5 separate regions of the Homo sapiens genome follow, and all the other regions are linked to region 5. The links come from fine-mapping of genetic effects on gene expression. A gene starts in region 5. Each other region holds a variant in brackets. All regions are shown on one strand. Distances are from middle to middle. Region 1 holds the start of LSM6 (LSM6 homolog, U6 small nuclear RNA and mRNA degradation associated). Region 2 overlaps LINC01095 (long intergenic non-protein coding RNA 1095). Region 3 overlaps LSM6 (LSM6 homolog, U6 small nuclear RNA and mRNA degradation associated). Region 4 has its middle 10 kb from the start of LSM6. Region 5 holds the start of REELD1 (reeler domain containing 1).

What was found.
Region 1: its variant is fine-mapped to the expression of REELD1 in lung (TOPMed, PIP 0.91).
Region 2: its variant is fine-mapped to the expression of REELD1 in whole blood (INTERVAL, PIP 0.96).
Region 3: its variant is fine-mapped to the expression of REELD1 in whole blood (TOPMed, PIP above 0.99).
Region 4: its variant is fine-mapped to the expression of REELD1 in whole blood (TOPMed, PIP 0.97).

The regions. Positions count from the first base shown.
Region 1 is chr4:146,171,368-146,177,257 of GRCh38, reverse strand. It overlaps LSM6 (LSM6 homolog, U6 small nuclear RNA and mRNA degradation associated), which reads right to left and starts at 1,540. Exons shown (of 4, transcript NM_007080.3): 1 at 1,447-1,540. RefSeq lists a silencer at 1,331-1,390. The variant G/A (reference allele first, on the strand shown) is at 2,780.
Region 2 is chr4:146,106,374-146,112,419 of GRCh38, reverse strand. LINC01095 (long intergenic non-protein coding RNA 1095) reads left to right here. Exons shown (of 6, transcript NR_038331.1): 4 at 670-819; 5 at 947-1,109; 6 at 2,554-2,965. LOC105377469 (a long non-coding RNA gene) reads right to left here. Exons shown (of 3, transcript XR_939294.1): 2 at 4,340-4,535; 3 at 2,795-2,882. Among named protein-coding and RNA genes, the nearest start is that of LINC01095, 13 kb to the left of the region's middle. The variant G/C (reference allele first, on the strand shown) is at 2,567.
Region 3 is chr4:146,185,773-146,191,818 of GRCh38, reverse strand. It overlaps LSM6 (LSM6 homolog, U6 small nuclear RNA and mRNA degradation associated), which reads right to left. Exons shown (of 4, transcript NM_007080.3): 3 at 4,432-4,545; 4 at 284-2,197. The coding sequence ends at 2,163. Among named protein-coding and RNA genes, the nearest start is that of LSM6, 13 kb to the right of the region's middle. The variant ATTTTTT/T (reference allele first, on the strand shown) is at 2,999.
Region 4 is chr4:146,162,223-146,168,268 of GRCh38, reverse strand. No RefSeq gene overlaps it. Among named protein-coding and RNA genes, the nearest start is that of LSM6, 10 kb to the left of the region's middle. The variant C/A (reference allele first, on the strand shown) is at 3,247.
Region 5 is chr4:146,211,039-146,217,084 of GRCh38, reverse strand. REELD1 (reeler domain containing 1) reads right to left here and starts at 2,547. Exons shown (of 8, transcript NM_001354631.1): 1 at 2,391-2,547; 2 at 1,887-2,009; 3 at 1-143. The coding sequence starts at 132.

The DNA of each region.
Region 1 (5,890 bases), 40 kb after region 5:
ACAGCACAGAGTACTCACTTGGGAGGCAGGAAACCTGAGTTCTAATCCCAGCTCTGCTACTTAATTAGCTGTGTGACTTGGATAACTCATAATTTCACTTCTCATGGCCCCAGGTTCCTCATCTGCAATATAAGGGAGTTATGCCAGATGACCACTTAAGTCTCTTCCTGCCCTAACATTCAGGTAGTCTAACGCATTAACGCCAGTGACACACACACACACACACACACCACAAACACAAGCCTCTCAAGATTTCTGCACAATATTTAAGCAAGTAAAATTACCAAACATCTCTAAAACTTTTTTGGAAAACACTGCAGCAATGTGTATGAAGGCCTAAAACAGACCTTTCAGATGACAGCATCTAATCTGATAATTTCACTTCTGAGAATCTAGTCCAAGGAAATAATCTAAAAAATAGGGGGAAAAGAGTTTATCAAAGCACTATCTGGGATGCTAAGATGATGTAAAAATTCAAAAACAATCTAATGTCCCACAATCGGGAAATGACTGAATAATTTACGGGACCTAAACTGGGACCCACAATGATAGGACAATCAAAAGAAGATACAAAATTAGAATAATATTTAGGAAGAGTTTTTAAATGGAAGTGGAAAACTACACTGTTAAGTGATTAAACATGTACACTCTTAGTTCAAGTAGAAGCTAGCACATACAAGAGAAAATGATCGTAGGTGAAAGGGTTCAGTGAATATTATTTTCTTCACTAAAGTCTTCTATGTTTGCAATTTTCTACAATAGTCACGTATTACTAAGAGCAGTGGGGCAGGGTAATCCGCATCATCTTAATCCTACACACCTTAAAAATGCCTGCTATGCAGGTGTGCGGACACGCATACGCACAGAAAACCTTGGGCGATAGGACTTAAGACCATACAATCGGGTTCCTCGACCTGACAACTTGGTAAGACAGGCGAGTCCAGCCTTTAATTCCTGTGGTCAGGCGCAGCCACCCCGATGTAGGAGAGGGTTCGCAATTCCCTGAAGCCCTCCTGGAAGACAGGCGAAGCCTAGGCCTGGGTTCGGGATCCGCTTTCCCGCCGAATCTTGGGATTAGCGTCGGGGCTCCCTGGGGAACTTCAACAACCTGAATTGATCTCGGACGCCAACTCGGTAGGAGCCGGGACGGTGCCGCTCCTCTCCGCGCAGTCTAGGCGCCTCGCTGAGGGCGGTCCCGGCGCCCACCATCAGACCTCTCCCAGCCATTCCATGCGCGGAGAGCTTGGACGCGGCATTTCGCGGGGACCCGCCACCCAGCGGTCCCTTCCCGGAGCCCCAGCCTGTTCACCGCAGGCCCTTTCCGGGGCTGCCTCGCCCGGCCTAGGGCCGCTGCAGCCGCCGCTCCACAGCGCGACTGAACACTGGGGCACCGAACCTGGGGCTGCGCCCGGCCCCGTCGTCGGCCCGCGCAGCGGTGCGGCTCACCTCGCCGGCGGGAACCAGAACCCTCACTCCAGGCGCCCCACGAGCCCGGCCGCCGCGGATGATCCCAGCCAAAACCGAAAGCGCCGAGGCAGGGGCACTTTTCTGCCTCAGCCAATCAGTGCTCTTCTCTGCTACGGCAGCCCGCTGGGGCCGAAAAAGCCTGTCAGCACCAAAGCGCGCAAATCCAAGATTCCTGGTTTGTCTAGTAGCAAAATTGGTGCAGTGGAGTTCCTCTAACAGAAATCTGAGTACAAAACAAATACAATACAAAACAAAAACAAAATTCCAGGAAACTAGAAGTGATCTTTTGGGCAGGATTTATTTACAGAAGTGTAAAAAATAACTTGAAGTCATAGGAAACTGGAATTTACTGTTTAAGTAACGGCATTGTGTACCCAGAAACGTCCTTGAATAGTTTAAAGCAAATAAATAAATAAATGAAACACCTCAAGTCTTTAAATCTACCTCTGGATATTGATTAAATGTGTGAAGACTTAAGCCATTTTAGCAAGAGACTGTTTCCATGGCAATGTTAATTGATACAAAAATAATCAAAATCACTCAAGTAACTCCAAATTATAATGACATTAATTGTGTTACATTACTAGTTCCTATTGGAAATGGTGTGCAGACTTATTTCAGTGCTACTATGGGAACTTGGTTTGGAATTTTGCATGAATTCTCAATACTCTTTCTATTAATGGAATTGAAAGGGAAAAAGAAGAGAACTGTTACACCAGGACTTGATTCGTTTTTCCCCCTCCACATATACTCTCATCAGTTGAAAACTTATACTTTAATTATATTTATGATTTGTAACACTATACACAGAGTGATAAGATCTTTCAACACAGATCCTTAACCCCATTAGGTGTTATAAAATCTAAGATGCAAAATTTTTTTCGAAGATAAAGAGTTCCTCCCTTGTAAACTTCTTTTGGTTAAAGGCAGAAGAAATGAACTTTTGATTGATATCAGGGACAGAAAACAACTGGATATGATTTGTTAAAGAATAGAGACTTCCTTATATCCTTCTATAAAAGTTCAGTTTGGATAAAGACCGAACAGTTACTGATTTATTGTGAGGGCTGTATTTGAAGTTCTTGCAATATAAAATACAATGTAAATAAAAATTTTAAGAAAAGTACCATTTAAATCAAATAATTACGTGCAAAGAACAAACATAATAGGATAAAAAGCCCTGTTCCTAAAAACTTTCTTTGCAAACGACATCAAATTGCACATTCCTTACTGATTGTTTAAATTATTAAAAAAAAAAAGAAAATTTTTGATTCAAACTTCTTTCCCTTTCCTACAGAGCCCTAATCGAGCC[G/A]TTAACACTAGTGTGGTGGGTAGGGAGCCATGAGGAGTTTTAAGGGCCTAGTTCATCTGCTGAGCAGCTGCAACCTTCTCTAAGGGGAGTAGCTGGGTAAGGGCCCAGTTTGACACACGGGGTGGGCATCCTGAATTAATTCATGAGCTAACAAGCTTATAAAAAGTGTGGCTGTTCCCAAAAGCCCCTCAGCAGCTTATAAATGACTTTTACTAACTCACAAGGCAATTTTCCGTATTTCCCAGGTTTTTGCTTTCAGCATCTTTTATGATGCAAAGAAAACACTGCAAGACTTTTGGTGAATACTAGTCTTCAAAACCCTGAATGTAAACATTAATTTATTAAGGAGCCTTAAAGTCATAAAAATATTTTGGCAAGCTTTAGTTTAACTTATGTAGTTTAGTTTCATTTAGTTGTTAGGACTGATGAACCTACACTGACACATCATTATCATCCAAAGGCCAAAGTTTACATTAGGGTTCACTCTTGGTGTTGCACATTCTATAGGTTTTGACAAATGCATAATGAAATGTACCCACAATTACAGTATCATACAGAATAGTTTCACTGCCCTAAAAATTCTCTGTGCTCCACCTATTTATCCCTTCCTCCCCACTGGCAACCGCTGATCTTTTTTCTGTCTCCAAAGTTTTGCCTTTTTCCACAATATCATATATTTGGAATCATACCGTACACAGTTAGTGGTGCATACACTGCACCACCCCACTGTGTAGCCTGTTCAGACTGGCTTCTTTCACTTAGAAATATGCATTTAAGACCCCTCTGCGCCTTTTCATGGCTTGACAACTCATTTCTTTTAAGTTCTGAATAATATTCCATTATTTGGATGTACCACAGTTTATTTATCCATTTACCTACAGAAGGACATCTTGGTTGCTTCCAAGTTTGGGAAGTTATGAATAAAGCTGCTATGAATATGTGTATGCAGGTTTTTGTATAGAAATAAGTTTTCAGCTTATTTGGGCAAATATCAAGGAGTATGACTGCTAGATCATATAGCAAGGGTATGTTTAGTTTTGTAAGAAACTGCCAAACTGTCTTACAATGTGGCTGTACCATTTTGCATTCCCACTAGGAGTGAATGAGAGTTTCCATTGTTCCACATCCTCATGGGCATTTGGTGCTTCCAGTCCTTTGGATTTTGACTAGTCTAATAGCTGCTTAGTGACTATCTCATAGTTGTTTAAAGTTGTAATTCCCTAGTGACATATGATATGGAGGATCTTTCTATATACTTATTTGCCATATGTATATCTTTGGTTGTTCAGGTCTTTGGCCCAATTTTGAATCAGTTTGTTCTTTCTTTTTGTTGAGTTTTAAGAGTCCTTTGTATATTTTGAATAATAGTTCTTTATCAGATATGTGTTTTACAAATATTTTCTCCCAGTTTATGGCTTGTCTTTTCATTCTCTTGAAGCTATTATGCTTAAAATAGACAAATGCAGATATATAAATGCTAAGAGAACTCTTGCCACTTCATTGTTTGTCCCTTCTACAGTTCTATAGTACATATGCCTTTAAATAACTATGTCCTTCAATGTTTCATATTCATAAAAGATGGTCTCATGTCTAGCTTATTAAACACCCAACAGCCCTGTGAACATGTAGATGAATGTATTGTGATGTTGTTGTGGTTGTTGTTGATGATGATGATGATGATGATAAATACAAACATGTAATTGGATTGACCAACACTCTCCAAAGCAGATTTTAATATGTAACATGGATGTTAAGCTTCCAAGAATACTGGCTGGTCTTGTTGGAGCAATGCATTAACTGGTATGAAGTGCTGGCATGGACCTGAACCTTTCCTGGACCTTCAGACTGTACAATAGGAGCTCATAAGCTGTGATGTGCTAGTTTTGGATACTTGGGGCCACCATTATCTGCCTTTAATCATGGGATATGAAAATTATTTGTTATAGAAAATGAAGAGAGGCCGGGGGCAGTGGCTCACACCTGTAATCCCAGCACTTTAGGAGGCCAAGGTTGGCGGATCACTTGAAGTCAGGAGTTCAAGACCAGCCTGGCCAAGATGTTGAATCCCGTCTCTACTTAAAATTAAAAAATTAGCTGGGTGTAGTGGCACATGCCTGTAATCCCAGCTACCTGGGAGGCTAGGCATGAGAATCTCTTGAACCCGACAGGCTAAGGTTGCAGTGAGATGAGATCATGCCACTGCACTCCAGTCTGGATGATAGAGCGAGACTGTTTCTTAAATGAAGAAAGAAAGAGAGAAAGAAAGAAAGAAGAAGGAAAAAAGAAAGAAAGAAAGAAAGAAAGAAAGAAAGAAGGAAGAAAGAAAGAAAGAAGAAAGAAAGAAAGAAAGAAAGAAAGAAAGAAAGAAAGAAAGAAAGAAAGAAAGAAAGAAAGAAAAAGAAAGAAGGAAAAGAAAGAGGGAGGGAGGGGAAAAAAGAAAATAAGGAAACAGACAGACACTCTCTGGTTGTTGAATACCTTCTAAGAAGTGATACAAGCTCATTGACTGGTGGGCAAATTTCTCAGAAAAAGTAGTATGTCGTTTTGCTTACCCAAGGAAGTGATATATTCTACATCATGGGCGCTTGGTTTCAGATGTAACATGTGAGATGTTTAAATAATGTTCGGACTTCATCAGCCATCATTTTGGCATGACTTGAATTTTAAAAGAGATAGGATCAGAGTCTGAGCTCCTGGAAGGAGAATCTCCCAAATGCTGTGATGCTTTATACTCCACCGTGAACTCTAGAAAACCTCTCTCAGCTGTAAAATTTAGTGAAATCGGTGTGAAGCTGCCCTTGTATTTTAATCAAGATGAACTTGAAAGGTGAACATTATAAGTGGGAGAAATTATTTATAATTTGGTAATAAAAGTTTATGTCTAACACTCCAAATTTCATACATCTGCTATGTGCTGGCCCTGAGATATAAAACAATTGAAGTTGCCTTTACATTTGGCCTTATATGAAAGGTCATAAATTAGAGTGATAGCGTTCATCCTCTTTCCTAGCTCACAAAATTTCCATATTAACATCTTCACCTCAAACATAAATGGTTACCCAGCTACAAAGAAAAGAGTTGTGTTGGCCTTTATGAATTATAGTTTATGTT
Region 2 (6,046 bases), 100 kb after region 5:
ATGCTATACTGTAGCTAATTAAGATAATCACAGAAAATTATCAATAGGTAACTTCGGTTACTATTTTCTACATGCTAGCTTTTATTCTCACTTCATCCTTACCATCATGCTAGGAGGATAGGTATTATTATCACCATTTTAGAGATGAGAAAAGTGAAGTAAATACTATTAATTTCATTTAGAAGATAAGTAGATGAGGCTTAATCACACAGTTATTAAGTGGCAAAGACCGGATTTGAATCAAGATATCTGATTTTTAAAATTCACCTTGTTTCAAAGCATTTTACTTCACCTAAGAAGTTAATACACCTCACAACCAGATAACTCCTTCTTTTCAATTAGACTGTGTCTGTATCTGGGATCAGTTGCGAAGCAGAAGTATGACGTGACTAAGGCCACCGCTGGGTTAGGATACCCCCATCCAAGGTCAGGTTCTTAACTTCACTTAGCTCTGAAGACTTACGATTAGTTTTTCCTCTCCCATTTTTTGGGTAGCCCTTTCTCTTCTTTTCTGTGGAAAAATTTGTAACTTACCAGAACAGTTCACAATATGACAACATTGTAGTGGTGACATCACAGAGACAGAAGGAGGAAGAATGGCAACCCTTGGACTCCTGGGGATGTGGGAGCTCCTTGACCACATGTGGTACCTCTCTTTCCTGATCCCAGATTGAGAGCTGTACTAGCCTGGCATGCAGACAGCAGCTTTAGAATCAGATCTGCCTTCTGGCGGCTTCCCACCTAGGAGCCATGGGACCTTTGTGAAGTCACCAATTGTGCTGTGGATGCTTCATTTGTGAAGGAGAACAGGACTGCCTTGTAAGTTGCAATATGCGTTAGAAATAGCAAATAAACAGTACTTAACTCATAGGAGGCCTGTGATAAATGGGAGCTTTTATCATAGACTGACTTTCCTGCTCCTGTTTTGCTTCTTCTTTATGTTTAGGTGAAATTACGGATGGTGCTACTAAAACATATCAATAATTTGAATTTCACTTTTGTGGATGCTTTAAACATCATAGTCATTAGAAGGTGGATCTGGCTGATTGTACTTTAAGTTTTCAGTTTGAGCTGGAGCTTTGTATTATAACAGGAGGGTACTGGACAAGGTGAGTTGCTGATAGCCTCCCCCCACCTGCCAACAGACCTATCATTAGATGGAATGTAATGGACTTTGGCCAGTTGTTCTCCACCCCAGCTCTGACTTAGCGGCTCTGGCAAGAATGGATATATGAGCCTAAATACAGAGCTTGTTGTGCTACTTTTGGCTTTCCTTGTCATTATTTCTTCCTCTAAATTCAACAAATCATTACTTCCTCTTTTATTATGTTTTAGTATGAGTGTTTTAATACCACAGATATTCAAAATAAGCCTGTGGGAGACACTGGGTTATGAGGTGATCATACATTGTTCCTTTAATTTTCAGAACAACACAATAAGATAGGGACCCTGTCCCAGAGATGACTACATTGAAGTTCAGAGAGTTTAAGTAACTTGCCCAAAGTCACATCGCTAGTGAATAGCAAAACGAGGATTCAAGCCTAGGCCTGCCTATTTTCAAAGTTTATGGAAGGAATTAAAACATTTCTTAGTCTAATTTTCTCGGAGTTTTGTTCTGCTTTGTTTTGTTTTGTTTGGCTTACTTTCTTCATCAGCCTAATACCTGCTTCAAGTCTAAGTGAAGCTTTCACCTCTGCCTGGAAGTCTTCCCTGTCCCTGTAGGCTGTCAGGTGGCCTTCTCCCAGCCCCCATAGCATCCAGCATAGAAGCTGATCACAGCACTTACCACCCAGTGAAAAGTGTGGGCACAGTCCTGTCGGCCCCTTCCTCCTAGACTGTGCACCCTTGGGCAGCATGCTTTGCTTCCACAACACTTGCTACTTAGCAGGGGCTCAGGGCAAATGTGTGGACTTGAGCTGCCAAATTGAAGCCATAGGTCAATATTAGAACTAAACACTAGTGCTAAAGTGAAAACTTTAAGATGCACATAGACCAGTAATCCCCAAATGTGTTTGCTGAGGAGTGTGTGTGTGTGTGTGTGTGTGTGTGTGTGTGTGTGTGAAGAGACTGTGTACCACTGGCTTTTTCTCTCCTGTCATACTTTCACTCCTGATGGACTAGGCCTATGGAGTGTTCATTTTTCTCCCTGAACATTAGACATCTCTCTGCTGCCTTTAAATAAAATTCCTCATTTTACCTCTCCTCTTCTTTTCTTTATTTCCTTTGCTTCAGACAAGATATGAGCCCTTAACTCACCATAATTAACCTCACAATGGGCTACTGTTTGTTTCATATTGGAGACCACAAGATGGATCAGATAATAGTCCAATATTTTTGGACTACAATTTCCAATATTATTCCAATATTGCTGGAATATTATTCCAGTATCATCTACTATTTTCCCGATATTATTATTGGAAAATAATAGCATAGCTATTATATAGAATATTTACCCTGTGCCAGGGACTGTTTCAAGCACTTTACTTACATTAACTCATTTAATCTTCACAACAACTTTATGAGATTCATACTATTAGTATCAACATTTTACAGATGAGGAAACTGA[G/C]GTACAGATGGGAAACTTGCTCAAGTTCACACAGCAATTAAGTGATCAAGTCCAAGAGCAAAACCAGGCAGGCTGGCTCCAGAGCTCACGATAGTCCACCACTGCTTTCCACCATCACTACGGAATCAAGTCCATGAGGATACTCACCTTATGTCAGTTGCCTAAGTTGGAAATTATAGAATCTTCAAATTGGAAGGGACGTTATCATCCAAGATTTCAACTTTCTACTCACTGCAAAATCCCTTCTGGAACTTCCCAGATTGATGAATTTTCATCAGCTCTGCTTGAGTACTCCCAGTGACTTGGAAAAAAAACACTGTAATATGGATATGAAATATAAACTGTTCATGGATAAATTATTGCATAATAAAAACATGCCTAATGGCTACACTCCCCTAATATGTTCATTTGGTAATTATTTTTTATTTGCAAACTTGTTTTGATAGAACTGTTTCTTTTAAAAAGTTTAATTTGTCTTGAGATACATTTTCCTTTTATATCTTCTTATTAATGGGCTTATTTTCAAAGAGGAAGGTACAGCAAAGGTAAAAGAAAAAACTCATTTTCTCATGTTGTTTTGGGGTAAAAAATAAAGGCTAACAGTGGGTGAGTGATCTTTTTAATATTTTTAGTTAATTTCCCACACATACTTTAAAAAGTTACTATGGTACTGTTTTCTCCTACTATTAAAAATCTGTTTGAAATGAACTACTGGAAAAGTTAGGACATCATAAATCATCTTAAATAGAATAATTTATTTGATGTTTAATCCCTAATTAAGATGAAAATATCAATTGCAGCTGTTCGTTAGGTATGTTCTTAGTTTGTGTTTGGGCCACAGCAGGGGAAGAAAACCCAGAATTTCATAATTTTAAAGAGATTTCTAAATGCTCTGTGTTACACAAAACTTGCAAGTATGGCATTGTGGGAGACAACAGCAGTGTCATAGCTGACATTTGGGTTCTGGATTCAGACTGCCTGGGTTTAAAGCCCTTCAGTCCCCATCTTGATACAATGTTAAAAACATTCAAAGTTTTTAGCACAATGCCTAGCACTTTAGATGCCCAGTGAAATGCTGATATTATTTTTCCTTGTCCATTGAGATCTGTTTTGAAGTATAGGCAAAGCTTGGGACTGAGAATAAAGAATCAGCATCAAAGTCTTATAGTTCATCGTTTTAAAACTGTTTTCTCCAATTTATCCAAAAATAAAATTGAGGGAGTAAGATAGCCCGTGGTTAACATATCAAAGCACCAATAGACAGATTAGAGACTAAGAAGGTACATGAGCACTACAGGCTAAGATGTGGCCAGAACGCATGTCAGGTAAGAAGGGATACCCAGAAATCCTATCTTGGAGGCATCAGGTGAGCATGAGCAAAAGGATATCCCAGGCCAAAGGAACCTTGAATTAAGCAAGCTCTTTACAAGTCCTTCCTTGTGAGGAAGGAACGGCCCTGGGCCAGGCTTCCAAGGACTTCCATTTTAGTCCTGGGTCTGCCTTCTGTCACATTTCAGGCAGGCCATTTAAATTCTCTGAGCCTCAGTAACATTTTTTTTCCTGCCTACCTTAGGGTTATTGAGATACTGTGTGGGAAAGGCCATTGAAACAAAGTTTCAGAGCACTATCTATAAAACACCACATTTTATCACTAATAATCCCATCTTCTAATGTAATTACAGACTTCCCAGGATTTAGCAACCAGGGCCTGGAAGGCAGACAAAGGTAACTGGCCCCATGTGATAAAAACAGGTACAAACTTTCTTTTCTTACCTCACAAGCCTAGCTTAGTGCTGGACACTCAGCAAATGCTAACAAAGTGCCACGCATTGGTTTGAAAGGGTTCACTTCAACCTTGCCTTCTTCAGGAAGCACTTACAGAGAGCACTTTTCAGTGGGTAACAATGTGACGTCAAATGCTCAGTTTAAAACCTCCTTCCAAATAAAAGGAAATTCATCCTAGAAATGGCTAGAATGACAGAATGAAAACAGAGCAGTATCTACCTGGGCTTTAGTGCCAGGAAGTGACAGTCATTGGCTATGTGTTCAATTACATGGCCGAAGTTAATAGGTAATCAAATATTATGCAATAATAGATTAGTTGCCTTTCCTTGTTGCTAATTATCTAAAATATCTCTATATTGCATATTTAAACATAAAAATTTCCCTAAGGTGAATGATACACTATGCCATTTTTAGTGATTAAATGTGGCATTTTCTGCATCTTAATGAAACCATTATTTTTGTTCAGCTGAGTGATTTTATTAATTAAAAGAATGTCAGGAGAGTGGCAGCATGGTCATAGAGTTCTCAGAGAGTCGTAGCATTATAGAGCCATAAAGGACCTGACCAAACCCAGCCAGGGACTCTCAGTTTACCTGTAATTCTCCACCTGGAAGTCAAAAAGCTGGGTTCTGATATCATCAGTACTATGTGACCCCGGGCAAGTCATTCCAACTTTCTTTGACTGAGTTTATTCTTCAGACAAGGGATCTGTAATGCCATGATACTTTAAATTAAGCTTTTCATGTTGACATATGTTTATATATTGTTACACTAATAATGATGTGTCCCAACAAAGTATGGTTTTCTTTCTCTTTCTGACAACAAACACAGGGACTAGCTGTATTTGAATTCTCTGTTATTGGGAAAAAACATGGCTTTTCTTAATAGGCTGTAAATAACCTGAGGGTGCAGTTTGGGGTTCATAATTTTGTGTCCCCCATGGTGCCTTTAACATACTACTAGAAAGAAATAGAATTTCATTGTTGCGTGTTTCAATGTATTTCGGACCAAAGCATCCTGCTCTGAAACATCATTAAGGGAAAAAAATCCTAGCATATTGTGGGCCTCCAATGAAATGAATGTTAATTGTGTTGCCCAATACCAATTTATTAACGTTTATGAGCATACAACTGTGCGTGCACAAACACAGTTCATATATAGTTCTTGAAAAAAGCATTTGGGGTTTTCTACCACATGATGCTTTCAGTCAGTACCTCCTACCATTAATTTGTGTTCAGAGCAGTAGTTCCCAAAGCTACCCCTTCAGCAACATGTATGTTGACATGGATGTTGAAATGGATGATGTAAATACAGCCATTCAGAATAATCTGGAATCCTATTTTATGATTTGGAATGCCCAGAATGTCCAAGACATGACATACTTACAATTTCTCAGAAAAGTCACACCTGAAAAAGGTAAACACTCAACATAGACACTTAGACTTTCCAGGCATCTTAGCTACAAGACCAATGGTGTCAGTATCTTGAGTTCTGTGTTCTATAGGAGCTTTTTTTTTTTTTTTTTGAGATGGAGTTTTGCTCTGTTGCCCAGGCTGGAGTGCAGTGGCAAGATCTCGGCTCACTGCAACCTCTGCCTCTTGGGTTCAAGCGATTCTTCTGCCTCAGCCTCCCGAGTAGCTGGGACTACAGGTGCTCACCACCATGCCAAGCTAATTTTTGTATTTTTAGTAGAGA
Region 3 (6,046 bases), 25 kb after region 5:
CTGAAAATCGAGCACAATTTTGTTTCTCGCTAAACATTCTGTTTTGTCACAGCCCAAGAGAAAGAGTGTGGCAGACAGGGTTTGGGGGCACACAGACAGGGAAAATGTATGTTCTCAAGTAAAAAATTCTTCAACCTGGAACAAATGTCTTCGCTACAATGCAACTAGAAATCATTCACTGACCTCTAGGAGACTACAGTTAAGAACAAAGCAATTTAAGCATTTACACTTTGTTTCATGGTTCTACTATGTGAAGGTATACACAGGGGACAACTTGAGCGGGTTCAAGTGCATAATACAGTCCTTTATTACCATAAAAATGGCAGCACTTCCCAAAGTTGATCTTGATTAAAAGTAGTTCCATGGTTGAAAACAGTACTCCACTGTAGAGCTATTAAACTAGAGAGATGGCAAGGGGAAAATAAAGACTTATATATCAAAGGCGAGGTCAGGGAAGAAGTTAGAAAAAACAGGACGCTACAGATTAGTGGGAGACTACAATGGAATTGCTTTTAGAGGTGGCTGATATAAGTGAATGAAGGGACACAATAACCTGCAGCCCCACATATTCTACAAAACAAATGAGAACATGTATGCTCCACTTGGAGAGCCATCCATTTTCTCCTTAAAAGAACTCATTTATAAAAGAGCAAATTGGTGATTTGTACTTACATACTGGACCTTTTCCAAGCCCCTGTCAAGAAGTGATAAATTATTGAAGCATAGCATAAAGTGTTTTATTTTCAGTGTGCACACGGTAAAACCCTGTGAAATGCTTCTGTTCACCTTTCCCAAGTTATTAATTAAAAAATAATTGTTTCCAATTACTCTCTGATCTTTAAAATAAACCAAGACAAAACACTACATACACCTCTCCAGAATCAGCACTGCCCCTTCCCTCTCTCCTTCTCGATCCTGCCCCCCATCCTTCAACCAAGCAGTTGTTTCGAATCACACCATCGGCTCCTGAAATAGGAATGCTATTTAGATTGGGAAGGGAGGGAAGAGGAAGTCCAATACAACATTCACACAATTGTCTGGTATTCATTCAACCACAGTGCCCAGATATATTTGTTGTTCCTAGAGACAGCGTAAAACTGTTTGGAGAATAAAGCAGGGTTGTGGAAAGCTCATTAATAAATTGTGAAAATCCTCTCAGCAGGAGTCACATAACCAGAGGAGCTGCCTTGTGCCAAGCAACATAAAGCCTGGTGCTCTGCTCCTGGACAATGTCAAAGGCAAATACAGCTGATTTTTGAGAAAGGCCTCCCTACAGCCACTTGCTAGACCAGAGTTAGGAAAAATTCTTTCCCAATCTCAGCTCGGCAATTAGAACCTGAATTATGTTTACAAACTCTAGGCTTTGCTTTAATCTGACTGTGAGAGATGTACAGGAATGGCCCCTCCCCTACTGTGTTCATAAACTGAGAGAATAACGTTGATGCCAATGCTCCTGAAAGGGAGCAGGGAAACCTAAAAAGTCTAATTGCATAAGGAGATGCAGGGGGACCACTGACAGGAGGGCTTTCTCCTCACTGAAATCTTGTTCATCTTTAGGATTTCTCCAGCACCTCAGTTCGAATTCCCACTCCTTATGTGCAAGTGGCACTCTTGGCTTTCCAATTCTGTTTTTTATTTAGGTGACTCAATCAGTGGCTGAACTTCTGATCCTGTGGCCCCTTTTTGTAGCTTCAGACTGAAACTGGATGCCTTTGTAGAACATATTCACGCAAGGATTCTGTATGAACAGAAAAGGATGCAATAAAGGAGGATTCCTCCAAAATGTTTTAATTATATGTCCATACAATATATAAAATATATGCATCATTTTAGCTGGATAAGAAAAGCAAGTCAAATGAAATGACACTTCTCGAAACTTAAGTTAAATAATCTTGTAGGAAGAGGTATATTTTGTCTTTTTTTAATTATTTTAGCATTCTGTACACTGACAACGAGGTAAAAGAAAATGACTGAAACTTACAAGTGAAAGAACATTTCACAATTAAATCCACAATTGTATACATTTATCTTACTCACATGTCAGTGAAAAATCACCAACTATTATAAAAAGAGGACAAATTGTATCACAAAAGAAGCAAAAATTAGAAAAAATTCATAAAAAAATATATCCAACTATGAAAAGCGTTGCTCTCTTGGTGTCTTCACATCCGTCTCTTCTGTGTACTGATGTACAACACTGAAAAGAAAAAAATACATAAATTGAAATTTAAAAAACCCTGCTTGTAAGTATACATAGTAGCAAGTTTAAAAGCCAACAGATTTTGGTCTGATACATCTGACATTTAAAAGGAATTCTCGTATCATTCAATTAACTCTAGAAGTACTGTAAGACTAGTTTTATGAATCTACACCCAGGTTTGATGTCTTACAAAACTGTCCTAATTTCATCCATGTGTCTCACTGACTCTTTAAAGTGTGACCAGGAAGATAAAATAAAATATATGTGAAAGTCCCTGGTATCTAAGAATGCTTTATAGTTAGAAGTATAAGAATTATGCTTTTCAGGGCTGAACACGGTGGCTCACGCCTGCAATCTTAGCACTTTGGGAGGCTGAAGCGGGTGGATCACTTGAGCTCAGAAGTTTGAGACCAGCCTGGGCAACATGGTGAAACCCCGTTTCTACCAAAAATACAAAAAATTAACCAGGCATGGTGGTATATGCACTTGTAGTCCCAGCGACTTAGAACGCTGAGGTGGGAGGACTGCTTGAGCTTGGGAGGCAGAGGCTGCAGTGAGCTGAGATTGCACAACTACACTCCAGCCTGGGCCACAGAGCGAGACTTCATCTCAGGAAAAAAAAAAAAAAAAAAAGATGCTTTTCAGAAAGTAAATCAGTAAATCTAACCAGGCTAGATCTCAAATTAAGAATAAACAACATATTTTCATCTGTCTCCCCAATACAAACTCTAAACTTGCTGTTTACCTTCTTAAATGCAACAGGATAAACAAGAGCTAAGGAGTTTATTTTTTATTTTT[ATTTTTT/T]AATGATACCAAAGTCCTTATTCTGAGTTCCCGTTAAAAGTCTCATACTTTGGTGTTACCTAATGTTCTGCTTAGTGGTCTTCTCATGACTACCAACATGAACTCGTAGGATGTGTGGTCCGTAGGAATGAAACAAAATGAAATGCTTGGGTCACTTTGGCCAAACTAGAGGTGGTTCTCCCTTCCACCTTCCATGCCTACTCGGCTTCTGAGAGGTCTGCTCAAAGCGAACAGTAAGGTGTCTTCATCAAAGAACATAGCACAGATGAATCAAATAAGTCAAGATCCTCTTTAAGAGCCAATGATGTGAACTTGGGAGTCTAAAGATGAGTGTCACTGATTACATCATGGGAAATGTGACATGAAGGGAAGCATCAGAATGCCAGTACAGCCGCCCCCCAACCCTGCCCCCCAAGTCCTAGGGGTAGTGTGCACGTTAAAGGATCTACCCTATCAACACGCACAGAACCCAACCTGCCAGTGACTGCTGCCATTAGCTGTCTTGAGGTGAGACAAGATCATAACATTTCTTAGGAAAAAGAGGAGGTCAAATAAGGATATGAAAAATAGGATAAATAATTCTATAAATAGAAAGGACTAGAAAGCCAGGAAATAATGTATGTAAAAATATGATATGAAGAAATAAGGTCCTGTAAGCATAGGGGACAGACTCTTATTATAAAAGTCAGGAAGTTTAGTTTATAGCAAAGAGATCCAACTATTTAGGGGGTTGAAGACATCCAGAATTAAAGAAATCAACAAAAAATCTGAACTCAAGAATCCCAGAGTTTCTGGGAGATGGAACCAAAAAGTGGGGTAATTCTCATAATTCTGATATCTTTCCCTCCCCACCAAAAATACAAATATGACTTTATTATAATTTTCATTTTTAAACTAGGTACTTAAAAATAACTATAAAAATCATAGCAATTTATTAGTTGTTAAAAACTGAGTAACTTTTTCTATTTTGCCATTTTTGCCAAACTGAAGGATGCAAATCTGCATAGAAAGCATCTGAATGTTTAATAGAGAAGGGACAAATAGGACGAACTGCCAAATTATGCAAATCAAAGACAGCAGGGAAACGGTGCCCATTCTTACATCTCCAACTTCCAGGCTACAAGAAGCAGGAATATGTGTTGGGGAGATATACTACACTATATTCGAGAAAGCAGGGTTCCAGGTAAGGAGAACAATGTCCCTCAGTTCCTCATCACTAAAGGAAGGGAAGGAGAGAATTTTGGTTTCAAAATTCCATGAAGCATCTACAAAATAACTGGTCAAACTGAAGATCTGACATATAAGCATTTTAAAATAATCAAGCCTAAAAGTGGACTTTTAAATTATCTAGAAACCTCTTTGGTGATCTGGATTATAAATAGAAAGGCTTATTTTGAATGCTGTACTGTAGGGCGAAGAAATGTTACCATTGTTTCCTCGGATAAATGCATCCCCATACTTATTCTTCAGTTGTCCATTTACATATTCTTCTGTCTGCTCCAGGGCTATATTCATGTAGCCATCCAGGCAAGCCAGGACCCCTGCAGACATATTTAGTCAAAAAGAAGATACACAAGGCAAATAAGAGTTGAAAATTACAGGGTATACCTTAGAGCAGACAATCTCTTTATTCATTAGTTCTTAGATGCTTAATATAAAAATTCACACCATAAATGAAACTCAACAGCTTAAGCACAAAACAACTCTATGCCAATCTGAATGAAGTCTAGGAAGGCAGTCACGCACCCACTACTACCCGGTAAAACAACAAACTGTCACTTCCCTCATGGTACGTATGACCACACAGAAACTTTTAAAGCATTCAAAAAAGTAAGAGAATAAGACTATTCCGGCAAAAATACCATTCTTTGAAAGCTAAGCACAAGGTGGGCAATTATGCATAAACAAATGATCCTTGGTTCCAGTGGCATTTCCTACTTTAGCCACTAAGTGAAATACGGGTCTGGCAGATTTATTTCATTCTTTTACAACATCTATTGCAGCAGATGAATGTACTCCAGGGTTAAAAGGAAGTCTCCACAATCTGTTAAAATAATAGAAGAGGAGACAGCAGGTGCTCCCGAAAGAACATCTTAAAGCTGTGACTCACAGTGAAGAGCAGCTTGAGAATATAGGGCAACATATTGCATTATAACACATCTTGTTCTGTTTTGTTACAGCTATAATATTTTCCAATCAAAACTAATAGAGAAAATGGCCAAAAACATTCGAGGGAGCTTTCAAGGAAACAGTTTGAGTCAATCTTTAATTGTGTTAAGATGGTATAAATTTTGTAAAATTTGACCTGATGATCTTTTTCAAAAGATGAAAATCTGTAAGCCTCTAATTCTGTCTCTAATTTAAAGTGGTATTTCCTAGAAAAAAAAATTTAAGTAAAAACAAATACTAGATTCAATTCAGTCGAGTCTATAGTTTCTCATTTGATGTCTTAACTTCATTAATATGCTCCTCACTCTCTGCCTCTGCCCCCATTATCCTCTAAACAAAAAAGTTTCCTTTCAAAATTGTGTAATGACAGCAAAAGACATTAATCTACCAGAATTCTGCTAAAAGCGGTAAACTCTCAAAGAACGAGAATGGACTGTGAATAATAAAATTATTTCCTAGCAAAAGAAAGCTTAAGCTACAACTTTAGCTCGTTTCCTGCTGTACTATTTTACATACAAACTGCAATTATAAATGAGCAAGAAAAATCTGAGGCACAATATGCAAACCTGTTTGAAAACCAATGAAAAGAATTTCAAAATGAAATGTCCAGGCTGGGCAAAGTGGCTCATGCCTGTAATCCCAGTACTTTGGGAGGTAGAAGCTGGCAGATCACTTGAGGTCAGGAGTTCAAGATCAGCCTGGCTAACATGGCGAAACCCCGTCTCTACTAAAAATACAAAAATTAGCCAGGCATGGTGGCAGGTGCCTGTAATCCCAGCTACTTGGGAGGCTGAGGCAGGAGAATCGTCTGAACTTGGGAGGCGGAGGTTGCAGTGAGCCAAGACTGAGCCACTGCACTCCAGCCTGGGCGAA
Region 4 (6,046 bases), 49 kb after region 5:
GACAAATCAGATTCAGCACAGAAGAATATCCACCAGAAGACACTCTAGAAACAAAGTTACTATAGAGAAAGGGTGTGAGGAAAGAAAGCCTCAGGCATAGTGTCTTCCACCTTCAATGCAGATGGTGTGTGCTGGCCAACAGGGGTGAGCCATTTGAAGAAAGTAGTTGTCTTTGATGTCTTCCCAAAGTTTCCTTGCCAAGGTGCTGCTTCTTCCCCAGTCTGTTTGGTCATCCCTGACTATACTGGAATTCTCACCATGGCATCTCTCAAAAGAGCATCCCTATCTAACCAAGCCTTGGCTCTTGGCTTTGGATTTCTAACCCCTAAATGTTCCTCCAAAATAATTTATGTGTTCTATATTTCTTCCCTATTTTTTCAGCCAAATGTCATCATGGCAAATACCTAAAATACTCATTTCACATAAGGGAATAATAGTAAATCCAATATGGTCATTTTCTCCTTTACGTTTTAATAAGGTAGAGTTTCTCAATAGCTTAAAGTAATAAATCTCTTGTTAGGAAATCTGCATCAGTGACAGGTGTGAGAAGATTATGCAGGTATTTATAGGTATGATGGCCTAAGCAGATGAAGTGCCACATTATTTTTTAAACCATTAGTCTTTGATTTGGGTGAGATAAGCACAGTCTAATGTAGTCTACTCTTAGATATATGTAACAAGAAGGTGCCTATATCTTCCTAAATATATGGAATAACAGGAAACGTGCGCACTTGCCCAAAGGTACAGAGCAGACTTGCAGACTAGCCTTCCTATTGTGTATATCTAAGAGTGGGCTACATCAGACTTGGTTTATCTCACCCAAATCAAAGAATAACAGTGAAAAAAATGTGAATTGTAATTAAAAAAAATAATGGTTTAAAACAGCAGCTGTCTTCCGAATAACTTTATTGAAAAATGGGCAAAGGACTTGAATAGACATTTCTCCAGGAAAAACACAGAAATGGCCAGGAGATTTATGAAAAGATACTCCACATCACTAATCATCAAGTAAGTGAATATCAAAGCCACAATGAGATATTACCTCACACCTGTCAAGATGGCCATTATAAAAAATAATCATAATAACAAATGTTGGTGAGGGATGAGAAGAAATCAGAACCCCTGTGCATTGTTGCTGGGAATGTAAAGCGGTGCAGCTGCCATGGAAAGTAGTATGGATGTTTCTCAAGAAATTAAGAATAAACCTACCGTAAGGTCCAGAAATCTCACTTCTGGCTATTTAGTCAAAAGAATTGAAATGAAGACCTCAAAGAGGTATCTCCATTGCCATGTTCATGCACTATTCACAATAGCCGAGATGTGGATGAATGGCCGAAGAAACTGTGGTATATATACATGTATTAGTCTATTCTCATGCTGCTGTGAAGAAATACCTGAGACTGGGTAATTTATAGGGGAAAGAGGCTTAATTGACTGACAGTTCTACATGGCTGGGGAGGCCTCAGGAAACTTACAATCATGGTGGAAAGGGAAGCAAACACATCCTTCTTCATATTCAGGAGAAAGAAGAAAATAAGCCACTTATAAAACCATCAGCTGTCATGAGAACTCACTCACTATCATGAGAACGGTATGGAGGAAACTGCCTCCATGATTCAATTATCTCCACTTGACAAGTGGGGATTATTACAATTCAGGGTGAGATTTGGGTGGGAACACAGAGCCAAACCATATCAATACCCAGTGGAATACTACTCAGCCTTAAAAAGAGGGAAATTCGGCAGCACGTGGCGGCTCATACGTATAATCCCAGCACTTTGGGAGGCCAAGGCAAGCGGATCAGGAGGTCAGGAGTTTGAGACCAGCCTGACTAACATAGTGAAATTCATCTCTACTAAAAATACAAAAAAAAACAAAAACAAAAAGAAACGAGCCAGGGGTGGTTGCAGGCACCTGTAATCCTAGCTACTCAGGAGGCTGAGGCAGAAGAATCGCTTGAACCTGGGAGGCAGAGGTTGCAGTGAGCCGAGATCGTGCCACTGCACACCAGTCCAGGTGACAGTGTGAGACTCTGTCTCAAAAAAAAAAGAGAGAGAGAGGGAAATTCTGGCATTTACAACAAATTGGATGGACTTTGAGAACATTATGCTAAGTGAAATACACCAGTTGCTGAAGGACAAAGACTGCATGATTCTACTTGCATGAGGCATCTAAAGTAGTCAAACCCATAGAAGCAGAAAGTAGAATGGTGGTTGCCAGGAGCTGGGGGAATTGGGAAATGGGGAATTCCTGTCTGATGAGTGTAAAATTTCAGTTATGCAAGATGAAAAGGTTCTAGAGATCTACTGTACAACAATGTGCATAGTTAACAATACTATACTGTATACCTAAAATGTTTTAAAGGAGGTAGATCTCATGTTACATGTTTTTAAATATAGCAATAAATAATTGTAAAAACAGCAGCTGTTTTCAAAGAAAAAGGGTAGAAAGAAAGGACATGGGGATGGAGTGGTTATATTTTATTCAACTTGAATGCTCAACATATTTATAAGCCAAAATGTTTAAGCCACTCGCTGCCATCTAAAGTCCTTTATTCCTCAACCCCAGACAATTAGGATAATGGCAGCTGTTATGAAGTCAAGGGCATCCAAGACTTTTGAGATGAATACATTGATGATTATTTCCAAGAAAATCAATCCAATTAAACCACAGAAATGACACATTAGTTAATACCAATACTGTTAGCATTTTATGTCTAACTTTAGAATGTAGTGATGCTCCATCCATGAACTTGGACTTGGAAGGGCAAGACGCCTTCCAGATGGAATCTGTGTCTTCTTAGCTCATGTCCTGTTCTGGCTACAAACTTGCATTTCACTACTATTCTAACACATCTAAATCTGAGCCAGAAGCTTATTCCAAGTCTGGAAAAACTGATGGTTTGTTAAATATGCCTTTTTATTGAAGATGGATCAAGAACTGAGGACATATATGAACCCTGAGTAAGATGTGGTCATTCTTTTTATAAAATTAATTTATTTTTATTACACAGTATGGCATATTTCCTTTTTTATTTTGTTTTATTTCAATAGTTTTTGGGGAACAGGTGGTTTTTGGTTGCATGGATAAGTGGTGATTTCTGAGATTTGGGTGCACCCATCATCTGAGCAGTGTACACTGTACCCAATATGTAGTCTTTTATTCCTTGCCCCGTTTGCACCCTTCCCCACCAAGTCCCCAAAGTTCACTGTATCATTCTTATGCCTTTGCAGTCTCATGGCATCG[C/A]TCCCACTTATAAGTGAGAACATACGATATTTGGTTTTCCTTTCCTGAGTTACTTCACTTAGAATAATGGTCTCCAACTCCATCCAAGTTGCTGCAAAGGCCATTTTTTCATACCGATTTATGGCTGAGTAGTATCGCATGGTGTATATATACCACGTTTTCTGTGGTTGATGGGCATTTATGTTGGTTCCATATTTCTGCAATTGCGAAATGTGCCGCTATAAACATGCATGTGCATGTGTCTTTTTCATACAATGACTTCTTTTCCTCTGGGTAGATTCCTAGTAGTGGGATTGCTGGATTGAATGGTAATTCTACTTTTAGTTTTAGTTTTTGTTTTGTTTTGTTTTGAGTCACAGTCTCACTCTGTCACCCAGGCTGGAGTGCAGTGGCATGATCTCAGCTCACTGCAACCTCTGCCTCCTGAGTTCAAGCGATTCTCGTGCCTCAGCCTCCCGAGAAGCTGGGATTACAGGTGTGCACCACCACGCCTCACTAATTTTTGTATTTTTAGTAGAGATGGGGTTTCATGATGTGGGTATGGCTGGTCTTGAACTCGACCTCAAGTGATTCGCCCACCTTGGCCTACCAAAATGCTGGAATTACAGGTGTGAGCCACTGTGCCTAGCTACTTTTAATTATTTAAGGAATCTCCACACTGTTTTCCACAGTGGTTGTACTAGTTACATTCCCACCAGCAGTATAAAAGTGTTCCCTTTTCATCACATCCAAGCCAACATCTATAATTTTTTTTGATTTTTAAATTATTGCTGTTCTTGTAGGAGTAAGATGATATCTCATTGTGGTTTTAATTTGCATTTCCTGATAATTAGTGGTGTTGAGCATTTTTTCTAATATTTGTTAGTCATTTTTATATCTTCTTTTGGTAATTGTCTATTCACATCCTATTCCCACTTTTTGATGGGATTATTTTTCTTTTCTTACTGATTTGTTTGAGTTCCTTGTAGATTCTGGATATTAGTCCTTTGTCGGATGCAGAATTTGCAAATATTTTCTCCCACTCTGTAGGTTCTCTGATTTCTCTGCTGCTTATTTCTTTTGCTGTGCAGAAGTTTTTTCAGTTTAATTAGGTCCCATTTATTTATTTTCGTTTTTGTTGCATTTACTTTTGGGTTCTTGATCATAAAATCCTTGCCTAAGCCAATATCTAAAAGAGTTTTTCTGATGATATCTTCTAGAATTTTTATGGTTTCAGGTCTTAGATTTAAGTCTTTGATCCATCTTGAGTTGATTTTTGTATAAGGTGAGAGATGAAGATCCAGTTTCATTCCTCTACATGTGGCTTGCCAATTACCCTGACACCATTTGTTAAATAGGGTGTCCTTTTCCCACTTTATATTTTTGTGTGCTTTATTGAAGGTCAGTTGGCTGTAAGTATTTGGGTTTATTTCTGAGTTCTCTATTCTGTTCCACTGGGCTCTACATGCCTATTTTTATACCAGCAGCATGTTCTTATGAGAACTATAGCCTTGTAGTATAGTTTGCAGTCGGGTAATGTGATGCCTCCAAATTTGTTCTTTTTGCTTAGTCTTGCTTTGGCTATGCAGGCTCTTTTTTGGTTTCATGTGAATTTTAGGATTGTTTTTTCTAGTTCTGTGAAGAATGATAATGGTATTTTGATGGGAATTGCATTAAATCTGTAGTTTGCTTTTGGCAATATGGTCATTTTCACAATATTGATTCTACCCAACCAAGTATAGCATATTTTCTGTAAATGAATTGGAAGTTACAGATAAAGCTCAAAACTTGCTTCTTATTTCATCACTCAGAGGAAAACAATGCATGAACGTAGTGCTTGAAAGCCACTCTTGTATCTATATCTCACTCCTGCTCAGTATGATACACACTGTTCTATCATCTAATTTTTCTCATTCAATTATACTTTGTGAAGATCTTTACATTTCTGTGAATATAAAATCATTTTCATAGCAGCATAACATTCAAAAATTTAATCTCATTGTCAAACAACCATGTATTTTGAATTCTTTGCCATCAATTACAACATATATTTAAATATGTGTAGGTATATATATACATATATATATATATATATATATACACATGGATATATATATATATATATATATACATGGATATATATATATATATCATATAATTTATATATATAATGCTTATCTGAGTATTTCCTTAGATAAATGCCCACAATGCAGAATCACTGTTTTCAACTATTTTCAATTACTTGCATATTTTAAAGGATACCTTGCTGTAGATAGTGCCATCTTTTCCCCAGGAAAGCCAGTTATATCCTTTCAGAATAAATGATAGTGCAAAAAGATAGCTGTTTTCAAAAATAATCTGTCTAGTTTGTAAATATATGTTTATTCTCCACTCTTCACATATGGAGTATAAGCTCCTGTAGGACAGGAAGAATGCCAAGTCACTATCATGTCCCTAGCACTGAGCAAATGATTATTCCTGAGTATACCTAATATTTGTAACTTTACATATTTGTGTTAAGAGGTACCAAACTGAATATGCTTCAGACCCTACAGAACCTGTAATTCTCCTGTTAACACTTAGTAAGCACTTCCTATTTGCCAGTCTGAGTTTGTTTTGTGTTACTATACTAGAATACCACAGACTGGGTAATTTATAGAGAAAAGAAATTTATTTCTCACAGTTCTGGAGGCTGGGAAGTCCAAAAGCATGGCACTAACATCTGGCAAGGACCTTTGTGCTGCATCATCCTATGACAGAAAGCAAAAGGATAAGTGAGCCAGGAGACAGAGAGGGATGGGGGTTGAACTTTATATTTTTA
Region 5 (6,046 bases):
CTGGGCTTGGATGTGCTTGGGCTGCATGTCATCACAGGCCACCGTGCTGGCACCATGGGAAAAGGCAGATGAGCAGGAAGCCAGGCAGAGGGTGGTACAAGCCCAGCCCACGAGGGCAGCCTGCATCCTCATCCTGCCCTCTCCTGTATCATGACAAACAGCAGCTTCAGTCCAGACGTTATTTAGGAAAACGACATAAAGTCTTCTCGGGATGTGACTAACCTGAACCCCACACTGCCTCTGTACCTGAGATGCTTTTAGTGCAGCCTCCCAGGATTGCTAATGTTCAAGGCCAAGATCAAAAGGAAATGCCAGGCTATAGGAAGTGTTTCATTTCCAAACACCTTTTTAAAAACTTCTGTTCTTGTAATTTTCTCATAAGACCAGACTGCTTTTTTTGTTGTTGTTCAAAAGAGAGGCTTTAATTATTGAGTCAAAGAAATAAAACCAGAAAATGTTTGTATCCTAGCGTGAGCTCCTTGCAAGCTGACTGGTACCCAAAGGCGGTGTGGCCTCTGATACATTATCTGAAGTAGACACTCAATACACCACCATGGTCAGGCAGCATGGCATGGGATGGCTTGGCTGAGCATCTTATCTCTGTTGCAATTGAAAATTACCAAGTTAAGTGCTACAAAACATCTACCAACTATCAATTATTTAGAAGTGACTGTTAAGCTGGCAATGCTTTGATATCTCTTTGCCCTTTCTTTGGCTGTTTTTAGCTATTTCACTACTTTTAGTAAAGAAGATGAGCAGAGAAAGAAATACTCAATTTATTCTATAACTTCTTAAACATACTGATAACAATTTTGGCTCAGGAATAGAATACAATGATTGAATAAAATAGCATTTATAGAGTAAATTTTATTTTTGTTTACTACCTCTAATTCCCATCAAGAGGAAGAATTAAAATTTGGCAATGTAAAAGAAGATGACAAAAATAAAATGAGAGATAGCAAACAAGGCAGATGAAAATCTGCCTACATAAATATTTAGGATTATCACAGGCATTTTTTAACAGTTCTGTTTTAGGCCAGGTGCGGTGGCTCACGCCTGTAATCCTAGCACTTTGGGAGGCCGAGGCAGGTGGATTGCGTGAGCACAGGAGTTCAAGACCAGCCTGGGCAATACGGTGAAACCCTGTCTTTACTAAAATACAAAAAATTAGCTGGGTGTGGTGGCATGTGCCTATAGTCCCAGCTACTCGGGAGGCTGAGGCAGGAGAATTGCTTGAACCTGGGAGACCAAGGTTGCAGTGAGCTGAGATCATGCCATTGCACTCCAGCCTGGGCAAAAGAGCGAGACTCTATCTCAAAAAAAAAAAAAAAAGTTCTGTTTTTTTTTTTATAGTCCTGCACACAGGCATTTTAGAAGTTTGGCTAATTTTTTGACCTAAGGAACAATGCAAGGCAAAAAAAAAAAAAAAAAAATGCCCTCCCCTGTAGTCAGCTGGTTTTAAAAGGTGAAAATAAAATCCTGAAAATGTAGTAAAACTAGCTATCAGAACAATAGACTAAGGAAATAATCCATAAACCAAATAATCAAGTGTCCTCCACTCCCATTGTCTCTTCACACAACACCACCTTTTACATTCACAAGCTAAAAGAAGACAGGAATATGATCTATACCTCAAATTTCTTAGACATAAGAGTCCTTCAGACAATGCCTTTCTTTTCTAAGTTTGTTTTCTATGAAGCACCAAAGTCACACATCTCCATACTACAAGGAACCATGGCTACAGCTTCTCAGACACATTAGGAGATAATGAAGATGAACTGTGTAAAAGCACATTCTCAGTCAAGGGGGCTCAGGGTTCTTCTCATTTTCTTTCATAAGGGCCACATACAAAATGCCCCTTGAATGCTGGGCATGGTGGTGCGCACCTATAGTTCCAGTTGCTCAGGAGGCTGAGGCAGGAGGATCACTTGAATCCAGGAGGTCGAGGCTGCAGTGAGTTATGATCACATCACTACACTCCAGCCTGGGTACAGAGCAAGACCCTGTCTCTTAAAAGAAAAGAAAGAAATGAAATGAAAATGCTCCTCAAGTCCTTGCTGATGGCAAGTGGTCTTTCCAAAGGCAGATCAGACACAGTTGCCTACAAGGGAAGGGGAGTGAGTGCCTGGACTCACAGACTACGGCCACAGCCCCACCTCCCACCCTCCTGCCTTAGGTTTCACTGTGTCTTCTTTCCCACTAGCATCTTGTCTACCTGAACCCTGAAAACTATCCACTTGGAGCTGAGCATGGTGGCTCACACCCGTAATCCCAGCACTTTGGGAGGCCGAGGCAGGAAGATCACTTGAAGCCAGAAGTTCAAAACCAGCCTGCGCATCACAGGGAGACCTTGTCTCTACAAAAATAAATAAATAAAAACATCCACTTACCTAGGAACACAGTTTTCTTCAGGCTTGATAGAATGGCTTCCTCCCGCAGAGTTGCAAACACATCCCTTAAACATAAGTATTTTCTTCTCCTTTCAGTTTTTCCTCTAATGGGGAGAATAACAGCTGCTACCACTAATCCTCAGCATCTCCAGGAACTGTTCCTCAGTGTCCAAATCCAACCTAAATCGTATTAGCACACACATACACACACACACACACACACACACACACACACGGTTTACAGTCACATCATTGTTCAAGCCTGCGTGAAGAACTAGAAAGAACCGGAACTGGTTTTGCACAGGACTGGCACTGACATCCTTGGCAGAAGCTGGATGCCTCCATCTTGATCTCCCTGCAAAGGGGAGAATGTTTGAATGAAATGCATCTCAGCATTCTTGGCTTCTTGAGTCAGTGTGGACTGAAGTTACTCTTGGTGAAATAGAATTGATACGTTAGCCCAAGAGCAACGTTTGGTACAAAAAAATAACACGTGGCATAGGCACCTCCCGTATCAATTGCACTAAAGCTGGAGTTCACATTTTCATTCATCTAAGAATCTGCTGAGACACCTGATAATACCAGAGAGCCTATAGATCAGTGTTCCTCAATGTGTGGTCCCTAGAGTGCAACACCAGCATCACCTAGAAGCTTGCAACATTAACAATGAAGAAAAAGAGAGAGGAATGGATTTGGGAGATCAGGAGATCAGGTGGAGGTAGGATTTGGTGGCTGTTTGAATGCAAGGCGTCCAAGAGAGAATCCTAGGATTGATAGTCCTGGGTGATGTGGAGTAGGGGGCTGCAGAGAGAGCAATGTTCTGACTGTTAGGCCTTGTCTCCACTCAGAAAAAACTAAAGCTATGAGTGACTGAATAGGCAAGGCACTGGCTTAGGGACCAGGTTGCTAAGCCTTTTGTTGCAAGTGTAAATGAGACTATCTATCCTATAAACACCAAGGGAAATTGGGCTTCCTTGGCCTAGGATACCAGTATTCCCCACACACAGAACAAAAGCAAACAAATTCAATTTGGTTTCTCTAAGCTTCTATCCCACTAGGATTGGAGGCAATCTCAATCTCCCACTGAGTCATGAGAAATTCTGGGAGGTCTAGAAAATTAGGATACATTCCTTCCATGGCTGCTGTTATGATAGTTTTCAGAGCTCATGTGGTCACTTGAAGACTGTTAGTTGGAAGGCTTCTATGCCAAAAAGGGGCTCAGGTCTTCAGCAAGGCTGTGGCCTGGGTTCTTCCCACCCCCTCCACTGGGTCCTGACACAGATCTCTGCCCCTAGCAGGAGAGTGGCTAACCTCTTCTCCACTCCACTCTGCTCCTATCCCAGTCTTAGAGACAAAAGTGTCCCTCCTCTCCTTTTTTTTTTTACTCTCACCCCATTACCCTGGGCCACCTGGCATAATCCACCTACCACAGGTAGAGTGGTAATCTCCAACACCTCAGCTTTGCCCCTGAAACACAAACTCCCTGGATATACGGATTCTCAAAAGGCCCAACTACCAATTAGAATGAGGAGAGGAGTGCAAAGGTAGAGAGAGCGCACCTGCATGGCTCAATAAATAATCCTGCCATTTGCTCATGTAATATTTCTTGTTGAAAATCAGGAGGACACCATATCTTAGACATGGCCTTATCCTGCCTGCCACACCCACAGCCTCTGCTGAGCCGGCAGCGCATCTTATGCCACTCTCCCGACAAAGCTGATTGTACCAGGGGGGCATTCATCACAGGCGAGGGCCCTGCTGACTCAGGGCTGAGACAGAAACTCTCCCTGGGAATCTGACCAAGAACACATACAAGGCTACTCTATACGAGTGCTGGCCAATAGAAATAGAATGCAAGCCACATATGTAATTTAAAATTTTCTAGGCCGGACGCAGGGGCTCACGCCTGTAATCCCAGCACTTTGGGAGGCCAAGACAGGCAGATCACCTGAGGTCAGGAGTCCAAGACCAGCCTGGCCAACATGTTGAAACCCCATCTCTACCAAAAAATACAAAAATTAGCCAGGGATGGTGGCACGTGCCTGTAATTCCAGCTACTCTGGAGGCTAAGGCAGGAAAATTGCTTGAACCTGGGAGGTGGAGGTTGCAGTGAGCTGAGATCTTGCCATTGCACTCCAGCCTGGGCGACAGAGTGAGACCCTGTCTCAAAAACAAACAAACAAAAAAATTGGACTCTCCTTATTTTTAAAAAACGTGAAAAGGAACAAAAGACATTTGTTTTAATAATAAATTTAGTCAATTCAATATATTGAAAACATTTCACATGCAATCAGCATATAAAATATCATTAGTGAGATATTTTGCATTCTTTTTTTCACAGTAAGTCTTTGATATCCAGTGGTATTTTACACTTACAGCACGTCTCAATTCAGACTAGACACATCTCAAGTGCTCCGGAGCCACATGTGGTAAGCTGCTACCATATTTATCAGCGCAGGTCTGTACAAAGGAAGGTGGTTGAGCCATAGGTCATGGTGTGGGGTCAGACCTGAGGCCGTATTGTACCACGTGCAGGATGTGTAAGAGGCATTGAGGGGACAGGATAGTAATTAAACATAACAGCATATTTATATAATGCCTGCACAGTACCACACACTATTCTAGTCAGCTAGTTGGCAAATTACCTCATCGATACAGCAACACAATGAGGTCTGCACTATTGTTATCTCATTTTATGGATAAGGAAACTGAGTCACAGTGTTTCTGTAACTTGCCAAAAGTTCCCACAGCATTCAGGAAGTGATAGATAAGGTTTTTCCCTACAGTTTTGCTATAGAATAGCTTTGTAACATAATCTACAAGATGAAGATAACTACCAGTTCCTGTACCTGCATCCCGAAGTGCTGGTGAAGTTTCAGTGAGGTAATAAATAATAAGGAGTTGGTACTTAGTATGGGGTTTGAGACAAAGGAAGGGCTCTGTACCTGTTTTGTCTGGGGAAAGAGAAAGCTGGCTGAGCCACAGAGAGGGTTGGTGCCCACCACGGAGAGGAGGCGGTGAGAGAGTGTGGCTCTGAGCCAGATCATGCGCTAAGCCCGAAGCCCGAGAGACAGCAGTGAGTTGGCCTCCAATCCCCACCCACATGAAGGAGACCCAGCTGTGTGCACCCGGAAAGCAAGAAAATACTGTGTTTTGTTTGTTTGTTGCTTTTATTTTGGGAATCTGCTTGAGGTCATTTCACACTAGCAATTTGGCTGGACTTGATATATTAACATGATTGAATCTGTTACCTTAACATCCCCTGGCCCTGAGTAGAACAGTTAATATTAACGTCATACCAAGGGAAAGTCTTGGGGTGGGTTTTATGGTTATAAATCAGATACTCTGTGTCCTTCGGTAAATCACTTAACTTCTCTGGGTTGCCTCAGGTATAAAATAAAAAGGTTTGAATTAAATAATCTCTTCTATTTCTTCCAGCAAGAAAATGATACACATTTTCAAGGTTTTATTTTAGTTATAAAGGCATAAGAATGAGCTACTCTTAAAACAGCTTGAGATGGCATGCATTAAAGTCTGGCACGTAATTATAACCTGCGTTGACACCATCCCACACTCACTCCTGGTTTAAGAGTCTGCCTTGGAAAAGTTTGCAAATGAAGGAGGAACCTGTTGAGCTCACTATTCTAGTCCTGTTT